Linked DNA regions of Homo sapiens: region 2 is linked to region 1. The links come from fine-mapping of genetic effects on gene expression. A gene starts in region 1. The other region holds a variant in brackets. All regions are shown on one strand. Distances are from middle to middle.

Region 1 (15,625 bases):
CCCAAGTCCAGGCCAAACCAACCCACCACTTTCAAGTCCCTACACAAACCCACACTGTGAAGACCTAGACTCATGACAAGATCCCTGAAGCTGGCCAGGTAGAAGGCCTTGTTGCCAAACCCCAGAGGGCGTGGAGGGCTCAGGTCCACAGCCAGTTGGTGACAGGGTTGTGCTCGATCTTGGTTGCAATGTTCCTGTCACTCTAAGACAGGGAAGAATCAGAAACCCTGTCTCATGGGGAACATCGCCCCCACTCCCTTCATGCCCTGGCCATGGCCGGGGAAAGTCAGGCTGGCACGGAGGGCTCCAGGGGCTTACCTCACACTTTGGACCTTGTTGAATGGCGTGTCATCCACCCAGGACCAGTCCCCTTCCATCCCTGCTTTAGTCAGGCCAATCCAGTAGATGAGTCCCCCCGCTGTTTTATACAGAAACTCCTGTAGGAAAGACAGGATAAGCAGAGGTGCGGCCACACTTGGAGCTTGATCATCTGTCTCTGGGTGTTCTTCACCTGCGCTCAGTGACAGCCCTGACCCACAGATGCGCTGCACAAACTGGCCTCTCAAGCTTCTTCCTGCCCTTGCCCAGAGCCCAGATTTCATCTTCCAGATTATGATGTGTCCCTGCTCTGCAGCTAACAAGCTCAGGACTCAAGCCTTTCTGCCACTCAGGAAGCAGGTGCTGAAGCACAGGAAGGCCTCAGCTGAACTCCAGAGCACGGACCGCAAGAGAATGGTTCATATGATAATACCTGAATTAAATGAGCCCTGAATCCACATACGGCACTGTGCTGAGTCGTCCATATGCATTCTCTCCTTTCCTCTGAGGCAGGTGCCATCACCATGCATGTTTCATCAAGTGAGGGCCAGTGAAGTTTGCCCAGTGAAGTTGGGTATTCCACCCAAGCTGCTAGGACTAGTTAGATGGCAAGGTTCAGGCTCTAGAACTACGCCAGAGCCCAGGCTCTGACCTGCTCTGCTATCCCACCTCCCAGATGAAAAGGGCCTGCCCAATTTCTGCCTCACCAGGCAGGAGACTTCTTGAGTCATGTGGAATCATTAAGGCTGTTCACAAATATTTCTTTTTTTCTGGGCACATGGAAAGTAGATCCTCTCTGCCCTGTTCCAGGAGTACTGGAATCCAGGATCCTCCCAATCCAGGAGTACTGCATAACTTACTTAACTTAATTAACATAACTTAAGCTAGTGAAATGTAAGCAAAAATGAGGTATGTTAAATCTGGGCAGAAGCTTTGCACAATATGTCAAGTTCCCCTTTCCTGCCCCAGCAATTGTGGAGACATATTAAGATGAAGACTCCTTGGGCCTGGGTCCTTGAGTAGCCACAGTGAGCACAGCCCCCTTGCCGGCCCTTATTCGACATGCTACTGAGAACCAATCCTTCTTCATTAGGTCATCAATATTTGGGGATTTTTGTTCACGCAGTATAATCTTGCCCATCCTCCCTGGCCCAGTGCTCATACGCCCCCTTCACAGAGCCCATAGGCACAGCACTCACCTGCTCACTCTCTGAGGTCACCGAGGTCAGGTGTGAATTCCTGGACACACAGAACTGCTCGGCACTATACCAGGTCTTTGGAATGAGAGAAAAGTAATAGAAGTTCCCCTTGAAGTACTTCCAGCCTTGAGAAACCACCTGTAGAATATCATCTAGAGAACAAGAGGTAAAAGTGAACGCTGGTATTCTTGATTTCTTGGGATGCTGGCTTGGTGGGGGCACTTGAATGAGGTCTCAGAGACAGCAGCAAATGGAGCTGTGCGCTGGTGTCCTTGGGTCCTTGTATAGGAGATTAGGGACACTCTTTCAAATCCTGAAAGTCAGACAGAGACTAATAGAGTCTCTGGGACTGGAGAGGTTATAATGCAAGAGGTTGGACAAAGAGTGTCTTCCCCATGATGAGGAAGCAACCCTCCATCGGCCATGACAAGTGGCTGAGCCCCTGGACTCTAGAAAGGAACTTGATGGGAAATGACTAGGTGTGGGCCAGGGTGGACATCCCCTAATGCTTTTACATTCTGCACTTTTGTGTGGGAGCTCTAGCTGGACCCTGGTCTCTTTTCTCCTAACAGCCCCTAAGTCCTCCCCAACCTCAAGCCCTCTCTCCTTAACTTCCTAGCCCATGGCTGCCCCTCTTTTGCCCCCACTCTCCTCCCCAACCCACCAGCCCAATGGCCTCAGGTCTGGGACAGGTAAGATCCCATGGGCCACTGGTCAGCTTCAATGTAATTTTCTGAGTCACTTACTTTGTCGTTTGAGCAACTTGCTCATATTCTCCAAGCTGCCCTGGAGTGCCCGGATCTTTGTATTTAAAGCACTGGCTTTCTCCAAATCACTTTTTAACTCTGGGATTTGGGCATTTAAGGTACTGACTTCTTCCCAACTTCTTGTTAAGATCTGGATCTGTGCGTTGGCCTTCTCCACACTGGTTTTTAACTTCAGGAACTGAGAACGCACATAACCCAGGCTCTCATTCACCATCTGGATCTGAACGCCAGCTGCCTCCATGCCGTCACTATTCTTTTTAATTTCAGAATCCAGGGTGCTGATGTTGTCCACACGACCTTTCAGCAACTGGACATTGGTCTTTACATCTGATATGGTGCCCATAAACCGGGGATCTGGGATTGAGAAAGTCAGGAGGTCAGCTGAGGGGAGTCCCAGGGACAGGAGTGGGGGTGTTGTCAGGTTGATCAAAGGAAGGGAAGGAATAGGCTGAAGCTTCCCAAAGAACCAAGACAGTCCAATGGGCCACCCCAACCCTCCAATCATTCATTAACGTACAACAAACGTGCAATGGGCACCTACCATGTGCCAGGAACACAGGTGGATACAGATAATGGGGAGATTGATAAAACACAGGCTCTCTGTGAAAAGATTTCACAGGCAAGCAGAAGCAGGAGTTAGAAACCATTCCTGAATTTTCTGAGTGTTCAGGGAACATTTGATAAAGGGTGCCCTCCATGAGCCCCACCACTGTCCCCAGAACTTGATTCCCCCTAGACCCCACCCCTTGGTTGCCATCCCTCTGTTTTCAGAAACCCCTGCAGTGGCCATCTGCTAGGACAGCACCACTCCCCCACATCTGTCCATGGGCCCCTCTGTGACCATGGGAAGAACCAGCCACTAATCTGGAAGTGGCTTCTCCAGAGAACATGGAAGAGGAGATTACAAAACTGTTTCTCCCCTTCCCTTGCCCCACCCACTTTCACATTCTGCTCAGGTCCCAGGCCTGGGTACCAGAGAGAGGATCAAAGATAAACCAAGAGGCTCAAAGGCGAGCCCTGAGGAAAATGCGATGTTAGAGGCCAGGGGTCTAGGATGGGGCAAGGGGGACTCTGCTCAGAGCCTACAAGTCTAAGCCCAAATATGTCCCGAGGCCACAGAGGGAGAAAAAAAAACCCAACAGCTTCTTGGGTCCCTTTGCTCTGCTTCCTGGAGCCCTGGCAGGAGGAAGAAGGCTCTGCCAGCAGCAAAGGCCATGAAGCCTGACAGAGCCAGAAAAGGAAGAAAGATAAACCATGCAACATCAAATGAGCAGGAAGCCTCCCTAGATGTGATCTTCACAGGGACAGGAGAATGAAGACAGCACCAACGAGTCCTGGGGAGAGGGGACTGAGTCATGGAGATCTGTTGGCTCGTTGGCCAGGCTCTCCATCTGGTGAGCTGGGGCCAATGATACATGAGGCTCGGTCCTTCACAGGGTCAGGAGACATTGCACTGTCAAGGACTGTCCACAAGGCTCTAGATCCAAGGAGCAGAGCTCAGATTGGTGGGGGGTGGACGGGGAGAAAATAGCACAGGATGTAAAACTAGATCAATGTTTCCTGAGGACAAAAGAATGTATCCTTGAGCACCAATGTGCAAATGCTAATCCCAATAATCTCCCAGAAATTGGGAGGGAAAGAGCATCAGCTCACCGTACTGGGGGCAGCACAGCCTGTTACTGCACATGGAAAGAGGAGGAAGGAGACAAATGAAAAAGCCACAGGCAGGAGAAACCCGGAGAGCAGGGAAGTGGTCTCGATCTGAAGGGAGCCGGCTGGCCACAGAGAGGGGCTAAGCCCAGACGATGAAACATGAGGACTTACAAAGGACGGCCTGCAGCAGGACGGAGGCGACCAGGACCAGCGTCAGGCAGATTAATGCAGCACGGACTGTGGGTGTTTTCCCCGGGACCAGAGATGGACCGGACTTGGGAGGAGGCTCTGTTGGAAGAAGAAGAAAATGTGTGTTGAAGGAGCAGCAAAGGGCAGGTTTGCACACAGAACACGGAGCAGGTTCTCAGCAGCGATGTGGCTTGCCTCGGGGCCAGAGGGAGATGTTCTGTTTGTCCACAGTGAAGTGCGCATCAGGGGCCTCCTTCTCCACAGTCATCCTGAGTGCTCACCCTTATCCTGGGAGCACAGGTGCTTCTGGCTGCCTGTCTCTCCAAGGGCTCTTATCTAGAGGAAACAGGAAGTCAGTCCCACAGCAGGTCACCATATCATCCCAACTTCCCTATTCCTGACTAGATACCTTGTCTGGCTTACTCCCATCCTCAGAAGTCTGAGCTTTCAGGAAGAGGCCATTTGTTGTCTTCTCTGGGGGTCTGTTACATGGATACATTAACCATCTTGTCCCAAACCTATCCCATTTCTCTTGTAAGACTCTCGTCATCCATCCACCCATCCATTCACCCCACAAATACAGGCTGAGTGCCTTCTAGGTACTGATGCTCTACCAGGCATAGGGCCACAGTGATGAATAACTCGCAGTCCTTGCACCAAGCAGCTCATAGTCTGGTAGGAAAGACAGACATGAGCAAATAAATTGCAAGGTGATGAGCACAAGAGACAAATATGCCCAGTTCAAAGAAGCATATGAAATGGAGTAATGGGAAAAAAAAAAATCCAGTAGAAAGATAAGCATATGCCAAAGGATGGAGCATAAGATAGCATGGAGTGCTTGGCAAATTGTAAATAGTTGCAATATTGCTGGAATGTAAAATATACATTCCAACAGGAAGGGGATGCACACGGGGTTGAAGAGGCACCTGGGGTCTGATGATGAAGATCCTTCTGATCATGTCAAGGAGCTGGACCTCTGGCTTGTGGGTGACATGGGGCCAATTAAGGACTTCAGGCAGGAGAGAGACAAGGACAGGGACACTGTAGAAACATCACTCTGATCCTGGTGAGGAGCAGACTGGTGGGGAGAAGCCTGGAAGCAGAGATACCAAATAGGCAACCATTGCAATAGAATATCCTGCTTCCTGTTATTAATGCATCTTGGCTGATACAATATCCCTTTATAATATGCAACTTGGAGATTCAAAGTGTAAACCTAAGACTTGGGTTCTCCTCCCTGCTTCCTGCACCATGTGAGATTTTCAAAAAAAGTAGGGGCGCTCAGCAACCTCAGACTAGGAATCGTTCTGTTTCTCTCTCCTCTCTCTCTGTCCGCACCTCCTCTCTCCTTCTTTGTAGTCCTAAATAGAGAGTTCCATATGTGCAAGAAGCTCAGGGCACAGAAGAGCTGATTTGGGCTCAATGAAGGACTAAATTTTCTCCTGGGCGGCTTCTCATGCTTTGAAGAAGTCTGCCAAATCTGAGAAATTTGGCACATGGCAGACTCTAGACAAATATTTCTTGGAATATAGGAAAGAGGAGAGGAAAGAGGGAGGGAAGGAAAGAAAAAAGAAGGAAATTGGTCCAGATAATTGGAGGATGGGTGAATGGATGAATGGATGGATAGAGGATGCATGGATGGATGTGTGAATGGTAAGTGACTTGGAGACTTGATAGCTGATCATGCCACTCAGACATTTACACAGTCTGGGGCCTGGGATCTGCCTTCTAGAAGCTGCTGCTTTTTTCCACTGTCTCCAGAAGTTCTCATTCATCTTCAATGCAAAAGCATAAGGGGAAGTGTGATTTACTCCTTACCCAGGAATGAACAAAAGCTCTGGCCGCAGGAAAAGAAAGCTGTCCTGGGCCTGCTGAGGCTGAGCCAGTGGAGCTGGATGACAGCCTGTATCAGGGACCAGGATTAGAGGTTAAGTTAACAGGGCCAAGGAAATATCTACCTATGCTTTCAGGGGCTACTGCCACCTTTGGTACTTGGGAGGATAGTGGCTGCACGCTCAGCCCATGCCTATGTGCAGCTCATTGTAGTTACAGGCCCTTGATGCTCTCTCTCCAGCTAACCGGGCCTCAGGCTGGAGTGGCTTCTCGGACTGGATGAGGGAACCCAGAGAGGACCCCACACTGGGAAGCTCTGGGAAGGAAACTGGGTAGCAAAGATGGTGTCTCATTTGTTCTGTCCCATCGCTTCCCTACCCAGCCTGTCTGTAACTTCCAGGCCTGCTGTCTGCTCTAAATTTTAACATTTGATAGTCCCGAATATGAGGGCCTGGCTCCACATCACTGCCTGCCTCTGGGTGTCCATGAAGATTCCTACTCTCTTCAGGTGGCTCGTGTGGTTGCAGAGCCTTGGTTCCATCAGGGCTTAGACAGGATTAGAATGTTCCACTTCTGGACTCTCATGCTTGGGACCCAGCCTAACTCCAGAATCATCTCTGCCCTTCTGCTCCTGGCTCCTGGCCCTTCATCCATAGCCTGTCCTATTTCTGGGCCTGGGGATAGAGAAGAATCCAAATTACTCAAGACCCTGGTAGAAGGGGCCTTGCAGGGGTCCATGTCTCCTCCTGAGGCATTTGCGGGAAAGAAGCCGCCACACAGTGTGCCTGGGAAGTGTCTTGTCCATTTCCGCTCGGTCAGGAAGTTGGGTTTTCTCTGCTGGTTTGTGGTATGAGTTATACTTTATAGAGCCCCCCAGATGCCCTCTCATTGGTCCCAGGAAAGGATGAGGAAGCCTTAGCGGCTGGGCCCATGGCATAGGAAGGGGCTGGAGCAGGGAGCATTTACTCCAAGTGATGGAAATGCAGGCTGAGGTAGGTAGAATAGCTACCGCTAGGCGAAAGGCTGTTCCAGCATGAGGAAGCTGAGCAAAGGCATGGAATCCTGGGCTGTGGGCCTTCTGGGGTTTCAGAGGAGGTGGATGTAAAAGTCCCAAACCATAGGAAGTTTCATTTCCCACTTTGTGGAGAGGGAGGGAGTCAGAAGCCATCTTCCTATTATCATGCTCATCTACAGGTCTTTCCTGAGCACCTCTCCTGTGCAAACCTCTGGATGCTCTATCTGGCACCTGGCCTGGCAGGAGAAAAGACAGAGAAGCAGGCAGGTGCCTTGGCCACACTTTCCAGTCAGGAAGGTGGGCAGTTCTCCCGGGCACTCAGACAATGCCCTGCTCTTCCAAACAGAAGAGGAACTCTGGCCAGACCTAGTGACCAAAAAAATCACCGCTGTGATGAGAACGGGAAGTCTGTGCTCATTTTTTTAGTTTCTCCTCTTCCTGTGTTCCTGGGGTTCTAATATTTTCTCTGGATAAGGATGGAGGAAGAAAACAGCTTGGTCACTTTTTCCCTTTCTCTGGTTGAGACTATGGTTGGGCCCAGCCTTATGCTTGGAGGAGAACCATGGGTTTAATCAACAAGACTGGAACAGAGACCTGGGTTGTATGAAATGCTCCAGCAGTGCCAAGAGTCATCTCCAGGGAGGAGTCACCCAAGTCCCTCAGTCAAGTCATGGAGGAAAGTAGAGTGAACACCAAATTGCGGAGTGGGGACAGGGAAGGAGAAGAGAGGGAGGAGGGGAGAATGACTCTGAAATGAGAGGAGATTACAGCTGGTCACACCTGGCTTACATAGGGACTCCTGTGATGTGATGCGGGATTTGGCCCACAGCCTCCAAAAAATCAAGGGATTCCATGCCACCCTCCGGACATGCGCCCTGGGCACAGGGGATAGGGCAGAGAAACCAAGGAGCATAGGTGGCACCATTCACTCCTCTAGTCCTGCTGTGCACTAGGTACCAGGACACAGCAAGGAAAAAGACAACCACAGACCCTGCCCTCAGGAATGGTTTTCCTATTGTTGAAAAAATATGACATCCTTAATGCTGGGGAGAAGGGAAGGCTCTCCCGAGACTAAAAATGACTGACGACACTATAGGGGCCTTCCCAGGTCTCCTTGGACCCTGATAACGGGTTCCTCTTTTATGACATTATATGAGGACAGGTCTCTTTGGAACAGTGACAATAAGCCAGACCCTACTGATCAGGGTATTTCACCCAGTGCCATCATAAATAGTGTGATATGTAAATAGGCTGGCAACCTAGCCACATGGAAGAGCTGCTGTGTACCCGGCAGAGGAGGCTGCCCCAGACTACGTCATAAGTCAAAGAACTCATGCCTATAGCCTCAGTGGGAAGGGCAAATCTATGTCAGGAAAGTAATGAAAGGCTTTTGGGAAAAAAAATGTGCATAGTTTCTTTTTAAATCTTTTATTTATTATATAATTAATGATAATTAATTATAGAAAAAAATCCAAGTAAGAAAAAAACCCACCATAGGCTGGGTGCAGTGGCTCATGTCTGTAATCCCAGCACTTTGGGAGGCCAAGGTGGGTGGATCACCTGGGGTCAGGAGGTTGAGACCAGCCTGCCCAACATAAGTGAAACTCGTCTCTACTAAAAATACAAAAATCAGCCAGGCATGGTGGTGGGTGCCTGTAGTCCCAGCTACTCGGGCGGCTGAGGCGGGAGAATCACTTGAACCTGGAAGGTGGAGATTGCAGTGAGCTGAGATTGTGCCACCGCACTCCAGCCTGGGTGATAGAGTGAGACTCTGTTTCAAAACAAAACAAAACACAACAAAACCATCGTAGAGAAAACAAATGTTGTACCCATAGTTCAGTCTTCCTAACCACCCACGTGTATATGTATACACATCTATATCTATAGCCATAGCTGTGTCTAATCATAACTATGCATATATTATATACATATTCACAACACAATTCCTGCTTATTTTCCCTAGCATCCTTCCCCACCTCTCCTGCCTTTCTTTTTTGTTTTTTTGTTTTGTTTTCTTTTGTTTGAGATAGAGTCTCACTCTGTTGCCCAGGCCGGAGTGCAGTGGCGTGATCTCGGCTCACTACAACCTCCGCCTCCAGGGTTCAAGCAATTCTCCTGCCTCACCCTCCTGAGTAGCTGGGACTACAGGCGTCTGCCACCACATCCGGCTAATTTTTTGTATTTTTAGTAGAGACGGGGTTTCACCGTGTTAACCAGGATGGTCTCAATCTCCTGACCTTGTGATCCACCTGCCTTGGCCTCCCAAAGTGCTGGGATTACAGGCGTGAGCCACTGCGCCCAACCTCTCCTGCATTTCTGATACCAAAAATCCCCCTCCATTGGGAAATTTTTTCAGTTTGTGATTCAAATGGGGCTGCTGATCCTAGATACCCGCAGGTGTAGGAGTGACAACTTGCAATGATGGGTGCCCAGGGTTTGGGTAGGAAGGTAGCTCTCCTCTCTCCCTAAACTGAGGGACCTAAAGATATGACTATAGGGCAGCTAGTAACCAGTTCCTCTGTCATGTGGAAGACCCCAGTAGAATAAGACCAGCACAGAGACAGAAGCTGTAACAAAAAATGAAGAGACAGAAAGTGAGTCCTGGTGCCTTTGAGTGCTGGATCCTGTTGAACTTGAGTTCCATTCCCCACAGACACTGTGTTTCTTGGTTTGGTTATGTGAACACAAAAATGAAAATCTCTTATTTTCATTTGAATTTAATTGGATGAGTTTCTGTTTCTTGCAACCAAAGAGTCCTGTCCAATGCGTTATGTAAGCATATACATTTTTTTTTACAAAACTAGACTTATACCCTATAGTGTGTAAGTTTTTTTTGTGTAATAATATATTATGGATAACCTTAAAATCAAACTTACATCTGCATAATAACTTTTATTTTTATTTCATGCTCTATTGTAACTTCATTTTCACTTTTTATATTTGATACATTTGGATTTCATGATTTTCCATTTTTTTCTTATCTCTTATGGTTTTGTTCAAGTATTCCATGATTTTAGAAAGGAATCTAACTTATCCATTTCTAAATGGGTAGCCTGCTGTCCAGATACCATTTTTTAAAACCATGCATAATTTTATCTCTGATTATGAAGTACCATCTTCATCATGTGTTTCATAATATGTTTGAGTTTGTTTCATATCTTTAAAGGTCTGTTTCTGGACTTTCTGTTGTGTTCCATTTGTCTTTCTATTGATATAACAAAACTCTACAATATTAATTAGTATAGCTTTATAATAAAGGCCCTATCTCCAGACACAGTCATATTGAGGATTAGGGATTCAACATGTAAATGAACAGAAAACACAATTCAATCCATAACAGAGCTCATAGAACAGACTAGCAGAAAAATATAACCCGTAATAAGGATAAAAACCAATCTACTGAAACGAACCCAGAAATGATACAGATGTTAGAATTTCCAGACAAGGACATTACAATAGACATTATAACTGTGTTTCTTGTGTTCAAACAGTTAAATAGAGACATGAAACATTTAATAGATACAAATTGAACTTATAATGACTGAAAAAACTACAATGCCTGGTATGAAAAATACACTGAAAGGGATTAATGGCAGGTTATAAATTGTAGAAGAAAAGATCAATGAAGTTGAAGATATGCCAATAGAAACTATGCAAAATGAAGCTCAGAGAGAAAAAATAACAGAACATCAGGAAGTCTGAGACAACTTCATGCAATTTAATATACGTGGATTTGAAGTCCTCAAAGCGGGTGGAGAGGGACAGAAAACATATTCAAAGAAACAATGGTCAAAATGTTTCCAAGTTTAAGAGCTATTTATTTATATAATAACATGGATGGGTCCATTCCAAGATGGCCAAATAGGAACAGCTCCGGTCTGCAGCTCCCAGCGTGATCGACATAGAAGAAGGGTGATTTCCGCATTTTCAACTGAGGTACCTGGTTCATCTCATTGGGACTGGTTGGACAGTGGGTGCAGCCCACAGAGGGCGAGCCAAAGCAGGGTGGAGTGTCACTTCACCCAGGAAGCACAGGGGTTGGGGGATTTCCCTTTCCTAGCCAAGGGAAGCCATGACAGACGGTACCTGGAAAATCGGTACACTCCTGCCCAAATACTGCTTTTCCTACGGTCTTAGCAACCAGCAGACCAGGAGGTTCTCTCCTGTGCCTGGCTCAGAGGGCCCCACACCCACGGAGCCTTGCTCACTGCTAGCACAGCAGTCTGAGATCGACCTGCGAGGCTGCAGCCTGGCTGGGGGAGGGGCATACACCATTGCTGAGGCTTGAGTAGGTAAACAAAATGGTCAGGAAGCTCAAACTGGGCACAGCCCACCACAGCTCAGCAAGACCTACTGCCTCTACAGGCTCCACCTCTGTGGGCAGGGCATAGCTAAACAAAAGGCAGCAGACAACTTCCGCAGACTTAAACATCCCTATCTAACAGCTCTGAAGAGAGCAGTGGTTCTCCCAGCACAGCGCTTGAGCTCTGAGAACAGACAGACTGCCTCCTCAAGTGAGTCCCTGACCCCCGTGTAGCCTAACTGGGAGACACCTCCCAGTAGGGGCAGACAGACACCTCATATAGACGGGTGACCCTCTGGGATGAAGCTTTCAGAGGAAGGATTAGGCAGCAATATTTGCTGTTCTGCAGCCTCTGCTGGTGATACCCAGACAAACAGGGTCTGGAGTGGACCTCCAGCAAACTCCAGCAGACCTGCACTGACTGTTAGGAGGAAAACTAACAAACAGAAAGGAATAGCATCAACATCAACATCAACAAAAAGGACATCCACACCAAAACCAAGCCAACATCAAAGACCAAAGGTAGATAAAACCACGAAGATGGGGAGAAACCAGAGCAGAAAAGCTGAAAATTCTAAAGAACAGAGCACCTCTTCTCCTCCAAAGGATCGCAGCTCCTCGCCAGCAACAGAACAAAACTGGGTGGAAAATGACTTTGACGAGTTGACAGAAGTAGGCTTCAGAAGGTCGATAATAACAAACTTCTCTGAGTTAAAGGAGCATGAGCTAACCCATTGCAAGGAAGCTAGAAACCTTGAAAAAAGGTTAGACGAATGGCTAACTAGAATAAACAGTGTAGAGAAGACCTTAAATGACCTGATGGAGCTGAAAACCATGGCACGAGAACTTCGTAACACATGCACAAACTTCAATAGCTGATTCGATCAAGTGGAAGAAAGGATATCCGTGATTGAAGATCAAATTAATGAAATAAAGCGAGAAGACAAGATTAGAGAAAAAAAGAGTAAAAAGAAACAAACAAAGCCTACAAGAAATATGGGACTATGTGAAAAGACCAAATCTACGTTTGATTGGTGTACCTGAAAGTGATGGGGAGAATGGAACCAAGTTGGAAAACACTCTTCAGGATATTATCCAGGAGAACTTCCCCAACCTAGCAAGGCAGACCAACATTCAAATTCAGGAAATACAGAGAACACCACAAAGATACTCCTCAAGAAGAGCAACGCCAAGACACATAATTGTCAGATTCACCAAAGTTTAAATGAAGGAAAAAATGTTAAGGCCAGCCAGAGAGAAAAGTCGAGTTACCGAGAAAGGGAAGCCCATCAGACTAACAGCGGATCTCTCAGCAGAAACCCTACAAGCCAGAAGAGAGTGGGGGCCAATATTCAACATTCTTAAAGAAAAGAATTTTTAACCCAGAATTTCATATCCAGCCAAACTAAGCTTCATAAGTGAAGGAGAAATAAAATCCTTTACAGACAAGCAAATGCTGAGAGATTTTGTCACCACCAGGCCTGCCTTACAAGAGCTCCTGAAGGAAGCACTAAACATGGAGAGGAACAACTGGTACCAGCCACTGCAAAAACATGCCAAATTGTAAAGACCATTGATGCTATGAAGAAACTGCATCAATTAATGGGCAAAATAACCAGCTAACATCATAATGACAGGATCAAATTCACACATAACAATTATTAACCTTAAATGTAAATGGGCTAAATGTCCCAATTAAAAGACAAAGACTGGCAAATTGGATAAAGAGTCAAGACCCATCAGTGTGCTGTATTCAGGATACCCATCTCACGTGCAGAGACACACATAGGCTCAAAGTAAAGGGATGGAGGAAGATCTACCAAGCAAATGGAAAGCAAAAAAAAGCAAGAGTTGCAATCCTGATAAATAAATCTCTGATAAAACAGACTCTAAACCAACAAAGATCAAAAGAGACAAAGAAGGCCATTACATAATGGTAAAGGAATCAATTCAACAAGAAGAGCTAACTATCCTAAATATATATGCAGCCAATACAGCAGCACCCAGATTCATAAAGCAAGTCCTTAGAGACCTACAAAGAAACTTAGACTCCCACACAGTAATAATAGGAGACTTTAACACCTCACTGTCAATATTAGACAGATCAACAAGACAGAAGGTTAACAAGGATATCCAGGACTTGAACTTGGCTTTGCACCAAGCAGACCTAATAGATAGCTACAGAACTCTCCACCCCAAATCGACAGAATATACATTCTTCTCAGCACCACATCGCACTTATTCTAAAATTGACCACATAATTGGAAGTAAAGCACTCCTCAGCAAATGTAAAAGAACAGAAATCACAACAAACTGGCTCTCAGACTACAGTGCAATCAAATTAGAAATCAGGATTAAGAAACTCACTCAAAACCACACGACTACATGGAAACTGAACAACTTGCTCCTGAATGACTACTGGGCAAATAACAAAATGAAGGCAAAAATAAAGATGTTCTTTGAAACTAATGAGAACAAAGACACAACATACCAGAATCTCTGGAACACATTTAAAGCAGTATGTAGGGGGAAATTTATAGCACTAAATGCCCACAAGAGAAAGCAGAAAAGATCAAAAATCGACACCCTAACATCACAATTAAAAGAACTAGAAAAGCAAGAGCAAACATATTCAAAAGCTAGCAGAAGGCAAGAAATAACTAAGATCAGAGCAGAACTAAAAGAGATAGAGACACAAGAAACCCTTCAAAAAATGAATGAATCCAGAAGCTGGTTTTTTGAAAAGATCAACAAAATTGATAGACCACTAGCAAGACTAATAAAGAAGAAAAGAGAGATGAATCAAATAGATGCAATAAAAAATGATAAAGGGGATATCACCACCGATCCCACAGGAATACAAACTACCATCAGAGAATACTATAAACACCTCTATGCAAATAAACTAGAAAATCTAGAAGAAATGGATAAATTTCTGGACACATACACCCTCCCAAGACTAAACCAGGAAGAAGTGAATCCCTGAATAGACAGGCTCTGAAATTGAGGCAATAATTAATGGCCTACCAAACAAAAAAAGTCCAGGACCAGATGGATTCACAGCCGAATTCTACCAGAGGTGCAAAGAGGAGCTGGTACCATTCCTTCTGAAACTATTCCAATCAACAGAAAAAGAGGGAATCCTCCCTAACTCATTTTATGAGGCCAACATCATCCTGATACCAAAGCCTGGCAGAGACACAACAAAAAAAGAGAATTTTAGACCAATATCCCTTATGAACATCGATGCGAAAATCCTCAATAAAATACTGGCAAACCGAATCCAGCAGCACATCAAAAAGCTTATCCACCATGATCAAGTCGGCTTCATCCCTAGGATGCAAGGCTGGTTCAACATACTCAAATCAATAAACGTAATCCATCACATAAACAGAACCAATGACAAAAACCACGTTATTATCTCAATAGATGCAGAAAAGGCCTTTGACAAAATTCAACAGCGCTTCATGCTAAAAACTGTCAATAAACTAGGTGTTGATGGAATGTATCTCAAAATAATAAGCGCTATTTATGACAAACCCACAGCCAATATCATACTGAATGGGCAAAAACTGGAAGCATTCCCTTTGAAAGCAGGCACAAGACAAGGATGCCCTCTCTCACCACTCCTATTCAACATAGTGTTGGAAGTTCTGGCCAGGGCAATCAGGCAAGAGAAAGAAATAAAGGGTATTCAATTAGGAAAAGAGGAAGTCAAATTGTCCCTGTTTGCAGATGACATGATTGTATATTTAGAAAACCCCATTGTCTCAGCACAAAATCTTCTTAAGCTGATAAGCAACTTCAGAAAAGTCTCAGGATACAAAATCAATGTGCAAAAATCACAAGCATTCCTATACACTAATAACAGACAGAGAGCCAAATCATGAGTGAATTCCCATTCACAATTGCTACAAAGAGAATAAAATACCAAGGAGTCCAACTTACAAGGGATGTGAAGGACCTCTTCAAGGAGAACTACAAACCACTGCTCAATGAAATAAAAGAGGACACAAACAAATCGAAGAACATTCCATGCTCATGAATAGGAAGAATCAATATTGTGAAAATGGCCATACTGCCCAAAGTAATTTATAGATTCAATGCCATCACCATCAAGCTACCAATGACTTTCTTCGCAGAAGTGGAAAAAACTACTTTAAAGTTCATGTGGAACCAAAAAAAGAGCCCGCATAGCCAAGACAATCCTAAGCCAAAGGAACAAAGCTGGAGGCATCACGCTACCTAACTTCAAACTATACTACAAGGCTACAGTAACCAAAACAGCATGGTACTGGTACCAAAACAGATATATAGACCAATGGAACAGAGCAGAGGCCTCAGAAAT
Region 2 (16,579 bases), 44 kb after region 1:
CTGTACAAGGAAGTTTGTTGTGGCTTTTTTTTTTTGAACAGGGTTTTGCTCTGTCGCCCAGGCTGGAGTGCAATGGCACCATCTTGGCTCACTGCAAGCTCCACCTCCTGGGCTCAAGTGATTCTCCTGCCTCTGCCTCCTGAGTAGCCAGGACTACAGGCACATACCACCACACCTGGCTAATTTTTGTATTTTTTGTAGAGATGGGGTTTCACCATGTTGCCCAGGCTGGTCTCAAACTCCTGAACTCAGGTGATTCACCTGCTTCGGCCTCCCAAAGTACTGGGATTACAGGCATGGGCCACCATGCCCAGCCTGTTATGGCATTATTTGAGGAGGCAGGGGAGTTATTGGAACCACCTAGATATCTAATCTTGGGAGAGCAGAGAAGTAAAATGAAGTGGTTGCACACCATGGAGAGTTATACAGCCATCTGAAGCAACAGAGATGGATCTTTAAAAATATAACATGGGGCCAGGCGTGGTGGCTCGTGCCTGTAATCCCAGCACTTTGGGAGGTCAAGGCAGGCAGATCACTTGAGGTCAGGAGTTCAAGATCAGCCTGGCCAACATGGTGAAACCCCGTCGCTACTGAAATACATAAATTAGCTGGGTGTAGTGTTGCACACCTGTAGTCCCAGCTACTTGGGAGGCTGAGGTGAGAGAATTGCTTGAACCCAAGTGGCAGAGGTTGCAGTGAGCTGAGATTGCACCACTGCACTCCAGTCTGGGTGACAGAGCAAGACTCCATCAAAAAAAAAAAAAAAAAATGGCCGAATAGGAAGAGCTACAGTCTGTAGCTCCCAGCATGATCGACACAGAAGATGGGTGATTTCTGCATTTCCAAGTGAGGTACCTGGTACATCTCATTGGGACTGGTTGGACAGTGGGTATAGCACTCGGAGGGCGAGCTGAAGCAGGGCGGCTCACCCAGGAAGCGCGAGGGGTCGGGGGATTTCCCTTTCCTAGCCAAGGGAAGCCATGACAAACTACCTGGAAAAACGGGACACTCTCACCCAAATACTGTGCTTTTCCCAAGGTCTTAGCAACTGGCAGATGAGGTGATTCTCTCCCGTGCCTGGCTTGGCAGATCCCATGCCCACGGAGTCTTGCTCACTGCTAGCGTGCAGTCTGAGATCCATCTGCGAGGTGGCAGCCTGGCTGGGGGAGGTGCATGCACCATTGCTGAGGCTTGAGTAGGTGAACAAAGCGGTCAGGAAGCTCAAACTTGGTGGAGACCACTGCAGCTCGACAAGGCCTACTGCTTCTAGACCCCACCTGCATGGACAGGGCATAGCTGAACAAAAGGCAGCAGACAACTTCTGCAGACTTAAATGTCCCTGTCTGACAGCTCTGAAGAGAGCAGTAGTTCTCCCAGCACGGCGCTTGAACTCTGAGAATGGACAGACTGCCTCCTCAAGTGGGTCCCTGACCCCCGTGTAGCCTAACTGGGAGACACCTCGCAGTAGGGACCAACACGCACCTCATATAGGCAGCTGCCTCTCTAGGACAAAGCTTCCAGAGGAAGGATCAGGCAGCAATATTTGCTGTTCTGCAATATTCACTGTTCTGGAGCCTCCGCTGGTGATACCCAGGCAAACAGGGTCTGCAGTGGAACTCCAGCAAACTCCAACAGACCTGCAGCTGAGGGACCTGACTGCTAGAAGGAAAACTAACAAACAGAAAGGAATAGCATCAACATCAACAAAAAGGTCATCTACACCAAAACCCCATCTCTAGGTCACCAACATCAAAGACCAAAGGTAGATAAAACAACAAAGATGGGGAGAAACCAGAGCAGAAAAGCTGAAAATTCTAAAAATCAGAGTGCCTCTTCTCCTCTAAAGAATTGCAGTTCCTTGCCAGCAACAGAGGCAAAGCTGGATGGAGAATGACTTTGACAAGTTGACAGAAGTAGGCTTCAGAAGGTCTGTAATAACAAACTTCTCCGAGATAAAGGAGGATGTTCGAACCCATTGCAAGGAAGCTAAAAACCTTGAAAAAAGATTAGACGAATGGCTAACTAGAATAAACAGTGTAGAGAAGACCATAATAGCCTGATGGAGCTGAAAACCATGGCACAAGAACTTTGTGATGCATGCACAAGTTTCAATAGCTGATTCAATCAAGTGGAAGAAAGGATATCAGTGATTGAAGATCAAATTAATTAAATAAAGCAAGAAGAGAAGTTTAGAGTAAAAAGGTAAAAAGAAACAAACAAAGCCTCCAAGAAATATGGGTCTATGTGAAAAGACCAAATCTACATTTGATTGGTGTACCTGAAAGTGATGAGGAGAATGGAACCAAGTTGGAAAACACTCTTCAGGATATTATCCAGGAGAACATCCCCAACTTAGCAAGGCAGACCAACATTCAAATTCAGGAAATACACAGAACACCAAAAAGATACTCCTCAAGAAGAGCAACCCCAAGACACATAATTGTCAGATTCACCAAGGTTGAAATGAAGGAAAAAGTGTTAAGGGCAGCCAGAGAGGAAGGTCGAGTTACCCAGAAAGGGAAGCCCATCAGACTAACAGCAGATCTCTCAGCAAAAACCTTACAAGCCAGAAGAGAGTGGGGGCCAATATTCAACATTATTAAAGAAAAGAATTTTCAACCAGAATTTCATATCCAGCCAAACTAAGCTTCATAAGTGAAGGAGAAATAAAATCCTTTACAGACAAGCAAATGCTGAGAGATTTTGTCACCACCAGACCTGCCTTACGAGAGCTCCTGAAGGAAGCACTAAGCATGGAAAGGAACAACTGGTACCAGCCACTGCAACAACATGCCAAATTGTAAAGACCATCAATGCTAGGAAGAAACTGAATCAACTAACAGGCAAAATAACCAGCTAACATCATAAAGACAGGATCAAATTCACACATAACAATATTGACCTTAAAAGTAAATGGGCTAAATGCCCCAGTTAAAGGACACAGACTGGCAAATTGGACAAAGAGTCAAGACCCATCAGTGTGCTGTATTCAAGAGACCCAGCTCACATGCAGAGACATACATAGGCTCAAAATAAAGGGATGGGGGAAGATCCACCAAGCAAATGTAAAGCAAAAGAAAAAAAAAAAAAAGCAGGGGTTGCAATCCTAGTCTCTGATAAAACAGATTTTAAACCAACAGAGATCAAAAGAGACAAAGAAGGTCATTACATAATGGTAAAGGGATCAATTCAACTGGAAGAGTTAACTATCCTAAATATATATGCAGCCAATACAGGAGCACCCAGATTCATAAAGCAAGTCCTTAGAGACCTACAAAGAGACTTAGACTCCCACACAATAATAACAGGAGACTTTAACACCCAACTGTCAATATTAGACAGATCAGTGACACAGAAGGTTAACAAGGATATCCAGGACCTGAACTCAGCTCTGCACCAGGCAGACCTAATAGACATCTACAGAGCTCTCCACCCCAAATCAACAGAATATACATTTTTCTCAGCACCACATCACACTTATTCTAAAATTGACCACATAATTGGAAGTAAAACACTCATCAGCAAACGTAAAAGAACAGAAATCACAACAAACTGTTTCTCAGACCACAGTGCAATCAAATTAGAACTCAGGATTCAGAAACTCACTCAAAACTGCACAACTACTTGGAAACTGAACAACTTGTTGCAGAATGACTAATGCATAAATAACGAAATGAAAGCAGAAATAAAGATGTTCTTTGAAACCAATGAGAACAATGACACAACGTACCAGAATCTCTGGGACACATTTAAAGCAGTGTGTAGAGGGAAATTTATAGCACTAAATGCCCACAAGAGAAAGCAGGAAAGTTCAAAAATCAACACCCTAGCAACACAACTAAAAGAACTAGAGAAGCAAGAGCAAACAAATTCAAAAGCTAGCAGAAGGCAAGAAATAACTAAGATCAGAGCAGAACTGAAAGAGATAGAGAGACAAAAAACCCTTAAGAAAATCAATAAATCCAGGAGCTGGTTTCTTGAAAAGATCAACAAAATTGATAGACCACTAGCAAGACTAACAAGAAAAGAGAGAAGAATCAAATAGATGCAGTAAAAAATGATAAAGGGGATATCACCACCAATCCCACAGAAATACAAACTACCATCAGAGAATACTATAAACACCTCTGTGCAAATAAACTAGGAAATCTAGAAGAAATGGATAAATTCCTGCACACATACACCCTCCCAAGACTAAACCAGGAAGAAGTTGAATCTCTGAACAGACCAATAACAGGCTCTGAAACTGAGGCAATAATTAATAGCCCACCACCCCAAAATAGTCCAGGACCAGATGGATTCACAGCCGAATTCTAACAGTGGTACAAAGAGGAGCTGGTACCATTCCTTCTGAAATTATTCCAATCAATAGAGAAAGAGGGAATCCTCCCTAACTCATTTTATGAGGCCAACATCATCCTGATACCAAAGCCTGGCAGAGACACAACAAAAAAAGAGAATTTTAGACCAATATCCCTGATGAACATCAATGCGAAAATCCTCAAGAAAATACTGGCAAACCGAATCCAGCAGCACATCAAAAAGCTTATCCACCATGATCAAGTCAGCTTCGTCCCTGGGATGCAAGGCTGGTTCAACATATGCAAATCAATAAATGTAGCAAGGCTGGTTCAACGTATGCAAATTAATGAACATAATCCGTCACATAAACAGAACCAATGACAAAAACCACTTGATTATCTCAATAGATGCAGAAAGGCCTTTGACAAAATTCAACAGTGCTTCATGCTAAAAACTCTCAATAAACTAGATGTTGATGGAACATATCTCAAAATAATAAGAGCTATTTATGACAAACTCACAGCCAATATCATACTGAATGGGCAAAAACTGGAAGCATTCCCTTTGAAAACAGGCACAAGACAAGGATGCCCTCTCTCACCACCCCTATTCAACATAGTGTTGGAAGTTCTGGCCAGGGCAATTAGGCAAGAGAAAGAAATAAAGGGTATTCAATTAGGAGAAGAGGAAGTCAAATTGTCCCTGTTTGCAGATGACATGATTGTATATTTAGAAAACTCCATCATCTCAGCCCAAAATCTCCTTAAGCTGATAAACAACTTCACCAAAGTCTCAGGATACAAAATCAATGTGCAAAAACCACAGGCATTCCTCTACACCATTAACAGACAAACAGAGAGCCAAATCATGAGTGAACTCCCATTCACAATTGCTGCAAAGAGAATAAAATTCCTAGGAATCCAACTTACAAGGGATGTGAAGGACCTCTTCAAGGAGAACTACAAACCACAGCTCAATGAAATAAAAGAGGACACAAACAAATGAAAGAATATTCCATGCTAATGGATAGGAAGAATCAATATCATGAAAATGGCCATACTACCCAAAGTAATTCATAGATTCAATGCCATCCCCATGAAGCTACAAATGACTTTCTTCAGGGAATTGGAAAAAACTGCTTTAAAGTTCTTATGGAACCAAAAAAGAGCCTGCATTGACAAGACAATCCTAAGCAAAAAGAACAAAGCTGGAGGCATCATGCTACCTGACTTTAAACTGCACTACAAGCCTACAGTAACCAAAACAGCACGGTACTGGTACCAAAACAGACATATAGACCAATGGAACAGAACAGAGCCCTTAGAAATAACACCACACATCTACAACTATTTGATCTTTGACAAAAACAAGAAATGGGGAAAGGATTCCCTATTTAATAAATGGTGCTGGGAAAACAGGTTAGCCATATGTAGAAAGCTGAAACTGGATCCCTTCCTTACACCTTACACAAAAATTAACTCAAGATGGAGTAAAGACTTAAATGTTAGACTTAAAATCATAAACACCCTAGAAGAAAACCTAGGCAATACCATTCAGGACATAGGCATGGGCAAGGACTTCATGACTAAAACACCAAAAGCAATGGCAACAAAAGCCAAAATAGACAAATGGGATCTGATTAAACTAAAGAGCTTCTGCACAGCAAAAGAAACTACCATCAGAGTGAACAGCCAACCTACAGAATGGGAGAAAATTTTTGCAATCTACCCATCTGACAAAGGGCTAATATCCAGAATCTACAAAGAACTCAAACAAATTTACAAGAAAAAAACAAACAATCCCATCAAAAAGTGGGCAAAGGACATGAACAGACACTTCTCAAAAGAAGACATCTATGCAACCAACAGACACATGAAAAAATGCTCGTCATCACTGGTCATTAGAGAAATGCAAATCAAAACCACAATGAGATACCATCTCATGCCAGTTAGAATGGCAATCATTAAAAAGTCAGGAAACAACAGATGCTGGAGAGGATGTGGAGAAATAGGAATGCTTTTATACTGTTGGTGGGAGTGTAAATTAGTTCAACCATTGTGGAAGACAGTGTGGCAATTCCTCAAGGATCTAGAACTAGAGTTACCATTTGACCCAGCGATCCCATTACTGAGTATATACCCAAAGGATTATAAATCATGCTGCTATAAAGACACATGCACACGTATGTTTATTGCAACACTATTCAACAGCAAAGACTTGGAACCAACCCAAATGTCCATCAATGATAGACTGGATTAAGAAAATGTGGCACATATACACCACAGAATACTATGCAGCCATAAAAAAAGGATGAGTTCATGTCCTTTGCAGGGACATGGATGAAGCTGGAAACCATCATTCTCAGCAAACTATCACAAGGACAGAAAACCAAACACTGCATTTTCTCACTCATAGGTGGGAATTGAACAACGAGATCACTTGGACACAGGGTGGGGAACATCACACACCGGGGCCTCTCAGGGGGTGGGGGGTTGGGGAAGGGATAGCATTAGAAGAAATACCTAATGTAAATGATGAGTTGATGGGTGCAGCAAACCAACATGGTACATGTATACCTATGTATCAAACCTGCATGTTATGCATATGTACCTAGAACTTAAAGTATAAAAAAGAAAAAAGAAGTGAAGCCTGAAGATGCGACTGAATTGCTGCAATCTCATGATAAAACTTGAATGAATGAGGAGTTGCTTCTTATGGTTGAGCAAAGAAAGTGGTTTCTTGAGATGGAATCTACTTCCAGTGAAGATGTTGTGAACATTATTTGCAATGGCAACAAAGGGTTTAGAATATTACATACACTTAGTTGATAAAGCAGCAGCAGAGTTTGAGAAAACTGATTCCAATTTTGAAAGAAGTTCTATCGTGGGTAAAATGCTGTCAAACAGCATCTCATGCTACAGAGAAATCTCTCATAAAAAAAAGAGTCAATTGATGTGGCAAAAAAAATACAATTTTTTATATATATATATAGTTGCTCTTCCCTTCCTGAAAATGTCATCCAAAAGCCATTAGGTAGGGCCAAGCAAGGTAAGCATCCCCATAAGGGAGAGTGTCTGCCATGGTGAATCCGCATGGGTGTGTTGGGATCCAAGCAGGGAGACATCCACACAGTGTCAGCATCAGATACCTCAGCCACAGTGGGGTGAGCAGAGTCTCCTCAGTGGGGGTGGGGCACAGAGAGGCAATGCAGCCACAGGAAACTCGTTACACACCAGGAAACTGATCAAATATACATACTGAGGAAAATAGGAGACAGATTTCTCACTGTTCGAGAAGGTAGCATAAATACAGAAAAGAAGAAAACTAGAAAAAGCTCTTCCAGCCTGGGCAATATAGGAGGACTCTGTCTCTACAAAAAATGGGAAATTAACTGGGCATGGTGGTGCACACCAGTAGTCCTGGCTCCTCAGGAGGCTGAGGTGAGAGGATCACTTGAGCCCAGGATTTCGAGGCTGCAGAGAGCTATGATTGCACCACTGCACTCCAACCTGTGCAACTAGAGGACTCTACCTTAAAAATATAAATAATAAATAATAAAACTCAATAATATAAAAACAAATAACCCAATGTGAAAAAGAGCAAAGGACATAAATAGATATTTCTTTACAGAAGATATACAAATGGCCAAGAAACACATGAAAAGATAGACAACATCATTAGTCATCAGGGAAATGCAAATAAGAACCACATTGAAATACAAAGTCACATCCACTAGGATGGCTATAATTGAAAAAACAGACAATAACAAGTGTTGCCAAGGATGTGGAACAATTGGAATTCTTATTCATTGCTAGGGGAAAATGTAAAATGGGACAGCCACTTTGGAAGACAGTGCGGTAGGTCCTCAAAAATTTAAAGATAGAATTAGTTGTTTGACCTAGCAATTCCACTCCTAGGTATGTACCCAAGAGATATGAAAATATATGGCCACCGAAAACTTCTCCAAGAACATTCACAGCAGGATGTATTCATAATAGCTAAACAGTGGAAACAACCCAAATGTCCATCAACTGACGAATAGATAAACTGTGGTATGTCCATACAATGGAATTATTCATCCATTAAAAATGAAGTACTGATTTATGCTACAATACGGATGAACCTTGAAAACATTATGGTAAGGGAAAGAAGTCAGTCACAAAAGACCATATATTGAACAATTCCATTTATATGATATGTTCAGAATAGGCAAATCTATAGAGACACAATGTAGATAGTTACCTAGGGCTGGCAGGGATGGGAGAATTGGGAGGTGAAAGCTAACAGGAATGGGATTTCTTTTGGGGATGATGAAAATGTTCTAAAATTGATTATAGGAGTGGTTGTACAACTCTGTGAATATACATATTAAAAAACATTACACAGTGTATTTTAAATAGGTGAAGTGTATGATACATGAATGATATCTCAATAAAGCTATTACCCCCAAAAAAGGACATTTGGGACAATTCACAAATTAAATAAATAATATAGTAACAAAATATAGCCTATTGAATACATTAGGAATCCATTTGTTGATATTGATCTAAACAATGCACAAAGAGCTTGATGAGGGGCAGGATATATAGATAGTCTAAAAGTTCCTCCCTGCAAAATACTTATTAAATGCAAAGGGAAAAATAACCTTACAGGGAGAAACTTAATTCTCACTCAAATGATCAAAGTTAACATCACCAGTACAGGATATATCAAAATCATGTACCATCTGATAGGACACAATGAGAAGAATTCAATATCACTTCTGTGATATTCCTGCCAAAGATGCATAGTCTGAATTGAATTGTGAGGAAACATGAGATAAATCCACACCGAGGGGCTTTCTACATAATAACTGGCCGTGAAAGTCAAAGACTGGAACTAACTGTCACAGATTGAAGGAGACTAAAGAGACGTGACAACTGACTGCAATACATCTTTACTGCATCCTTTTGATAATAAAGGACATTTGCAGAACCATTGACAAGGGGGTCTGAGGAGTCAATTGTGATAGCATTAATTTTCTAATTTTGATGATTGCATTGCGATTTCAAGGGAGAATGTCCTTGTTTGTTAGAAATACAAAATAAAGCATTATGTCAGCAACTTGAGTTCAAACAGGTAAGTGGAGGAGGGGGTTTCTTTGTAATGCTCTTGACAATTTCTCTGTAAGTTTCAGACTGTTCAAAATAAAACAAGGAACTCCAATATATACAATCTAACTAACTGGTCCATATTCTTCAAAAATATCTGTTACAAACATACACAAAAAAAG[C/T]TGATAAACTGTTTCCAGGTAAAGGAGGCTAACAAGAACTTAAAAACTAAATGCAATGGGTAATATTGAATTAAATCTGGGACCAGAAAAAAATAATAATATTATAAAGGATATTATTGGGACAATTGATGAAATTTGAATAAGATCTGAAGATTATATATCAATGTTAAGATTCCTAATTTTAATCACTGCAATGTGGCATGTAGGTGATGGCCCTCAGGAAATGCACGCGAAAGTATTTAATAGTAAAACGGCATGGTGTCTGCAACTTATCCTCAAATGCTTCCATAAAAATAATTTTAAAAGAGAATGATAATGCAATTGCAGCTTAAAGACAATACTAGAGTTTTGTAATATTCTTGCAACTTTCCCATAAATTTGAAATTGTTTTTAACAATTTTAAATAATATTTAAAATGAAATATAAAACTCAATACCATGTACATACAATAAAAACGCACACCAAAAAAAAGAGCTTATTTTGTGAGAATATATGACAACAAAGACTAACAGCAAATACAACCCAGTGGTTTGGAGGAGGGGGTTGTGAAATTCAGGGAGGAGAATGTGAGTGCGTGAGTGCTCAGTCTAAAAAGATTAAACACACAATTTTTTTTTTAAACGGAGCTTCACTCTTTTCGCCCAAGCTGGAGCGCAATGGTGCGATCTCGGCTCACTGCAACGTCCGCCTCCCGGGTTCAAGCGATTCTCCAGCCTCAGCCTCCGGAGTAGCTGGGATTACAGGCGCTAGCCACCACGCCCAGCTAATTTTTGTATTTTTAGTAGAAACGGGGTTTCACCATGTTGGCCAGGCTGGTGATCTCCTGACCTCAGGTGATCGGCCCACCTCGGCCCACCTCGGCCTCCCAAAGTGCTGGGATTACAGGCATGAGCCACCGTGCCCGGCCTAAATACACTATTTTTAAAACAGACTAGGGAGGGGAGCTGCCGAAACAATCCCCAAACTTCTCACTTCACACTTCTGAGGAATGAGATGGGGTAGAAGTAGGGACAAGCATGAAGGGAGGTGTCATGTTTTATCTTTATCTTTTGGCACTGTTTGAACTTTTATTATATAAAATACAACCACATAAACAAATATGTAATTTTTTAATACAGACAAAAAAATGATGGAACATCTATATAATGTTACCAAGACAGCTGCTAGGAATGAGATAGAGCTACTTCCATTAACATGTAAGAAAACTATGACCTATTTTTTTAAGGCAATTTGCAGAGTGGCAGGGAATATAAATCATTGTTGCAAAAAACATCTAAATAGTTCACATATGCAACGTAGTAACTATAAGCCATGCTACTTCTGCACAGAGGATTAAGGAAGGACTTGTAGACACTTGTCTGATTATTTTATGAGTTTGTGTTCACTTATAATCTTTAAATTAATCTTATGTGAATATATTCTTATTAAAAAATCAAATAATATATGTATTGCTTTTATGATTTAAAATACATATTACTGTGGTTTAGAGAAGAAATTGTTTCTTAAAGGACAATTCCTATTTCTTTCTTCAGCCTCAAGAGTCAGAAAGCAAGACAATTAGTATTTTTAAATAAGGAAATGTAAACTAGTTTTCAGTAAAACATAATTTACAACAATAATGATTATGTAATCATGCCTCTATTAATACAGCAACCGTTTAAAATAATGCAAATGCACAATAACCAGGCTGTCTGTTTCCAATTTCCTTGGACTGGATGGCGAGAATCCCACTTTCCTGGACTTTTCCACCCACATTTATGATCCCTCGCAGCGTATAACCACTACGTACCTCTCCAAACCCAACAAACTTTGCAGCCTGCGCAGACAAAGGTTTCTATGTTTCTCTCTCCATTTCTACTTGGCAAACCCCTGCCTGGGGCTGTACTCGGGAGTCACCTTCACTTCCTTGCTAAGTCAGGTGAAGCCTTACCTGACTTTCTCCAGGCTGGGGAAAGAACCCCCACACCCCTCACCCACTCCCCGGCTCCCATTGCCTCTTCTTTCCTCTCCCTACCGTGCTGCCCACTTTGCGCGGTAATTTTTGCTCCAAGGGCCTGCCTCCCAGAGGCTTGGGGTGCAGGGAAAGTGCTCTAAGGGTGGGACTGATTTAGTCTGGACATTCCTGACCGGTAGCACCACGCCCATAATGACCCGAAAATAAATGCCTGCGTAAATTGCTTTGGGAAGCGGTTGGGCAATTTATTAAGAGTAGTGAAAATGTCCCCTTCCTGCTGAAACAGTAAGAATCTTGAAGAAATAATCCTCCCCAAAGGAGAAAACTATATACACGAAGATTTTAGGTTGTGTATTATTTTCATACAGAAAAACTGGACACGGAAGAATATCAAGTAATTGAACGGTTAAGTAAATTACACAGTAACATAATAGAGCATTACTCGGCCATTGAAAAGTATACTTATGAGGATCATAGCACATAGCAAATACTGAAGTGTGGCCTCAAGTAGAAAAGACTGAATACAAAACTACATGTTCACCAGGACTAACATTATGCAAAATAAAGATGCACATTTAAAAAAAAAAAAAAAAAAGACTGAGTCTTTTAGGGGTAGCACGGGGATATTTTTCCTGCTTTCAATTCTATTATTGCTGTTCTAGCCATGCGAACAGTGCACAGAGGTTGGAAGTGGCGTCAAGAGGAGTCTTACCATTGTGTATATGACTGTAAAACTGAGAAAAAGAAGGTAATATCAGCCTGGGGAATGCATTTCTAATGGCGGGACTTCCTGCACCTTGACCTGCCAGTCGGGGTTGTGGCCCGGCAGTGGCATTCCCAGGGGGTCTCAGAACAAAACGACGGCCACAGAGTCCACCTGGACAAAAGGGCAGGGAAGGGGCCCCTCGCCCTTGACCCTTGGGCTCTGCTCCGGCCACCCTGAGCCGAAGGCTGTTTGGGTGAATGCGTGGGGTTTCTCCGGCGATCGATCCCTTTGGACTGGCTTCCCCACTAGCAACCTGCGCGTCCCCACCAGAACCAGCCGGCTGGCCGAGCGAAAGCCCGGTTTCGGGAGACCTTGCGGGGAGAGCAGCTGGCCCTCGCCCACCGGGCCGCGCTTTGTCTAGGGCGCGAGTCCGCCCGTTTCCGGCCCCGCCCCTCGCCCTGGTCCCAGTCCGCCCCTCCCCCTACCCGGCTTCCGCGTCTCCGCTCCCGCGCTGCCGGCTTCCGCGGCTTCCCCCACTTCTCAGCCTGCTTCTCTCTCCCCTCTCCTTCCTTTCCTGTCCTTTCACACTCGCGCCCCAGCCCCCGTCACCATCTACCCCAAGGACTTGCAAACTTCGCCCCTGAGGAGCGGACTCTTCGGTTCTCCGTGGAAAATCAACCAGACCCAAAACAGAGGTCCCGGGTTTGGGGATACCACGCCGCGCGCCTGAGCATCCGGGCTCCATTTCTCCAGGCGACATCTGCGGGAAGGGAGACCTAAAGGCCAAGGCTGGGGACGAGAGGCAGGTGCCTGGAGTAGTGGACGGTGGAAATGGCGACGGCGGCCTGCACCCAGCGATCCCGAAAGTGCCCATGTATCCGTCCATCTGGGTTTTTTTTTTTCTTAGATCATCCACCAAGGCCGGGGTTTCCGAGTGAGGCGCCCACTTCGCATCCCACAGTACCGCCAGGTGTGTTTCCCATGAGCTCTTTAAGAGAGAACCCAAGAGCTCTTTAAGAGAGAACCCAAATAATGTGTGAATACCTTCTCCAATAACTTCAAGTCAGAGGCTCAGACACACACACACACACACACACACACACCCCTAAAACATATTTATTTCGTGGAAGAGCGTGTATCCCTCGGCTGTCCTTCCAGCTCTCCCTTGGTGCGTGTGCAGGACGCACAGAAGGGTGGAGTGTGGGTTGCGATTATTTTTACACAGAAGGTGTCACACTCTGGGATCTGTTCCGCAGGGAGGCCACAGGTGCCAGGAGACGCGGGAGAGACTGGCTCCTGCCAAGAACATTTCTTTGCATTGTTCAGTGCGGTTTTTTATTTTTATTTTTGACTGTTTGTTTGCCTAAGAGATGACTTCCCTTGCCAGAAAAAAAAAAGTGTTGTAAAAATAAAAGGAAACGGGATTACGATGTAAAAGACGAATAGATAAACCCGGTTCCGCAGATCTGCGGCGCGCGCGCCTGGCGACCTCGGATACATTCATTGAAGTTGCCGCGCACTCGTACCCGGGTTCACCTCGCCCCTCGCTCATTCCTCCCGACCAAGGCCCATGGTCAGAGGTGTCCTCGCCCCGCGGCCGTCAGAGGGCGCGGCCTACACTCGAATGCCGGCCGAGCCCTCCACGCGCTCGGAACTTGGGCTTCCCGGTGCAGCCTCCCCGCGATCGCAATGCCCGCTGCCTTTCCCGAGCCCAGTCCGGAACCCGCCTCTCTCGGGGACCTTGACCTCGCGCGGACCTCGTCGCCTTGCTTAGCTCTCCCTGACCTGCTTTTGAACCCGCTAATCCCGTCCCGAACTCTCGCCCCGCGGCAATCCCTCGCCCCGGCCCTGGCGCGCTAATTCCCGCTGACCCCGCCGCCCCGCCGCCTCTCTCCGCTCGCGCGGCTGTGACCAGGATAAGGGCTTCCCGCCTCTGAGTGCAGGTGTGATCTGGAGCTCAGGCAACTACTGCCCCCGCATTGTCCCCAGCCCGCGCTCGCACCCCCAGGACCCAAGCAAAGCGTCTCTTGCCTCAAACATTCTGCCCTTCTCTTGCTTCCTCTTGTTTCCCTAGCATAATTCATGTCTTTCTTTAAGAAACCCATCGGACCCACAAAGATCAAAATCTTCGGTAACACACCAAACTGGCGACGCTGTGGGGAAGCAAGCACTCTCCCAAGTGGCTGGCGCGCAGTGAGGGCGCAGGAAAGGTAAGCAGGAGACCCGCCGCTAGGAGCCAGAGCCAGGCCGGCGAGGCGGGCAGGCAGGAAGAACCGCGGACAGGGCGACTTGATCTCATTTTTAAAACCGGAGAGTGAGATGGGACGAGAGCTTGAGCTTCTAGGGATGGGGCTGAGATTCTGGAGAGACACCTGGTAGTCATTTCTTAATCTTTTGTGCTGCTTAGAATTTTTTCTTAGATGCATGTTTTCCTTTTAAAAGAAAAAGAAAAAAAAGAAAAGGCAGAGCGGGGTGGCTCACACCTGTAATCCCAACAGTTTAGGAGACCAAGGAGGGAGAAGCCCTAGCGGCCAGGAGTTCCAGATCAGCCTGGGCAACATAACGAGACCCTCGTCTCTGCAAAAAAATAAAAAATAAAAAATTAGGCGAGTGTGGTGGTGCCTGCCTGTTGTCCTAGCTACTCAGGAGGTTGAGGCAGGAGGATAGCTTGTGCTTAGGAGTAGAAGGTTGTAGTGAGCCGTGATCGTGTCACTGCAACCAGCATGGGCGACAGAGTGAGACCTTGTCTCTTAAAAAAAAAATAGTAAAAGTCATTATTTTAAAAGTTGATGAAATTAGTTCACACTACACACATTTACAAACACAGGTCACACACACACACAAACACCTCCAAGGCAAGGGTCTGCACATTTGTTTGGGGTTGTTTTGTTTTGTTTTGTAAGCAAACTGAACCCAACACAAAGCACTGTACTCCCCTTCTTGGTGTTTATTACAGGACCATGGAGGCTTAGTAAAAAGCATTTATTTAAGGGGAGTTATTTTCAGAGGCTGTTTTCTAGCCAGGAAAAAAAAAAATCGGATACTTAGACTTATCCCCTGGTATGTGCAACATGTAAACAACCAGGTAGCATGCTTCTCCCACCCCCAAAGATCAAACTCCAGGGTTCCAGCCTTGGCCCTGTATCAGTCTGACTGCCCCTGGAAGGTTGGCCATCTCCAGTGATATAGGCTACATGACCGACTATTCGAGTCTGTTTGGCTCACAGCTGTCCCCTAGTGCCTGGCATATTTTAGGAACTCAATAAACATTTGTTAGATGACAAATATTTCAAAGAATGTGCAACAGCTCCTGGAGAACTGTTTCCAGTAGATATAAATTCCTAGCAGCATCTTGGGGTAAGAGGACGGGCCCCCGAGGCTGCCACCTCTAGAGGGCCTTGGATAGTGGCCAGTGCCTTCCCACACAGGCCCAACAGTCACCCAAAACAGGCTGTCATTCAGCTCCTCACCCTTGCATTTTGAAAGTCCTCTCCCAGGGTCAAGAGATAGAGAATTCCTCTAGCCTGGTCCCACCCAGGCCAGTGGCTCCTAGAGACTCAGTCCCTAGGTAACCCCTCCTATTCACCATGGACAATAGGCCACTCAGCAGACAGGCCTTGGATGCTTGTTGGGACCCACCTGAGCCCGAGAGCAGAGCTTCTGGCTCACATGGTGAAGGGGAAACCAGAGAGAGGGTGACCTAGGAAGAGGTGCCAGAGATGCCTGGCTCCTGATTGCCAAGGTCAGTCTGGAACCCGCTTGCAGGTGACACAGATCACTGATCGCAAATGATTATTGCTTGAGGCAACAGGGCCCTAAACCTGAGGGTTTCCTAGCACTGGGGACATGGGAGACAGGTGGTTAGTGACCTTGAATGTACAGTGTTCTGGCTTGCACAGAAGGCATGGCAAAGACAAAAAGGACAAAAAGATGAAAAGGAGACCTGCCTACTTTGTAGTGACTAGTGGCAAAGACGAAAAGAAGACCTGCCTAAGTGGTAAGTCACTGTAGGCAACCTCTCTGAGGCACAGTCAGGAAGGAAAGGTGAGCCACTGCCCTTGATGGAAACACAGAAACGAAATGCTTCAAATCCATTCTAACAATGACATTTAAATTTGTGTTTTACTGGATTTGTTTGACTTTTAACACACCACAAATTCAAAAGGTATCAAAGGATATAAAGGCCGCCCATGCTGACCTCCAGGCCCCTCCCCAAAGACAGTCCAGAGAGCAGTCCCAGTGATCCAAACTGCACCCTGAGCTTTCCAGGAGCATCACGTGGGAAATGCCTGGGAAATGATGCCTGCCCCCTCCCGTGTCTCCCCCGCGACACACAAACACACAC

Alleles and levels. Positions count from the first base shown, and alleles are read on the strand shown. Sizes are in standard deviations (SD) of each study's normalised expression.
As copies of C replace T in region 2, the expression in left ventricle of the gene that starts at base 4,434 in region 1 goes up (small effect, 0.36 SD a copy in GTEx).

The links. PIP is the estimated chance that this variant, and not a neighbour inherited with it, causes the effect.
Region 2: its variant is fine-mapped to the expression of CD207 in left ventricle (GTEx, PIP 0.98).

The regions. Positions count from the first base shown.
Region 1 is chr2:70,831,383-70,847,007 of GRCh38, forward strand. CD207 (CD207 molecule) reads right to left here and starts at 4,434. Exons shown (of 6, transcript NM_015717.5): 1 at 4,322-4,434; 2 at 4,109-4,225; 3 at 2,264-2,638; 4 at 1,518-1,669; 5 at 319-437. The coding sequence starts at 4,394. RefSeq lists an enhancer at 1-330.
Region 2 is chr2:70,875,145-70,891,723 of GRCh38, forward strand. LINC01143 (long intergenic non-protein coding RNA 1143) reads left to right here and starts at 12,727. Exons shown (of 4, transcript NR_126384.1): 1 at 12,727-13,036; 2 at 13,142-13,204; 3 at 14,332-14,444; 4 at 14,677-14,840. RefSeq lists an enhancer at 12,584-13,234. The variant C/T (reference allele first, on the strand shown) is at 9,575.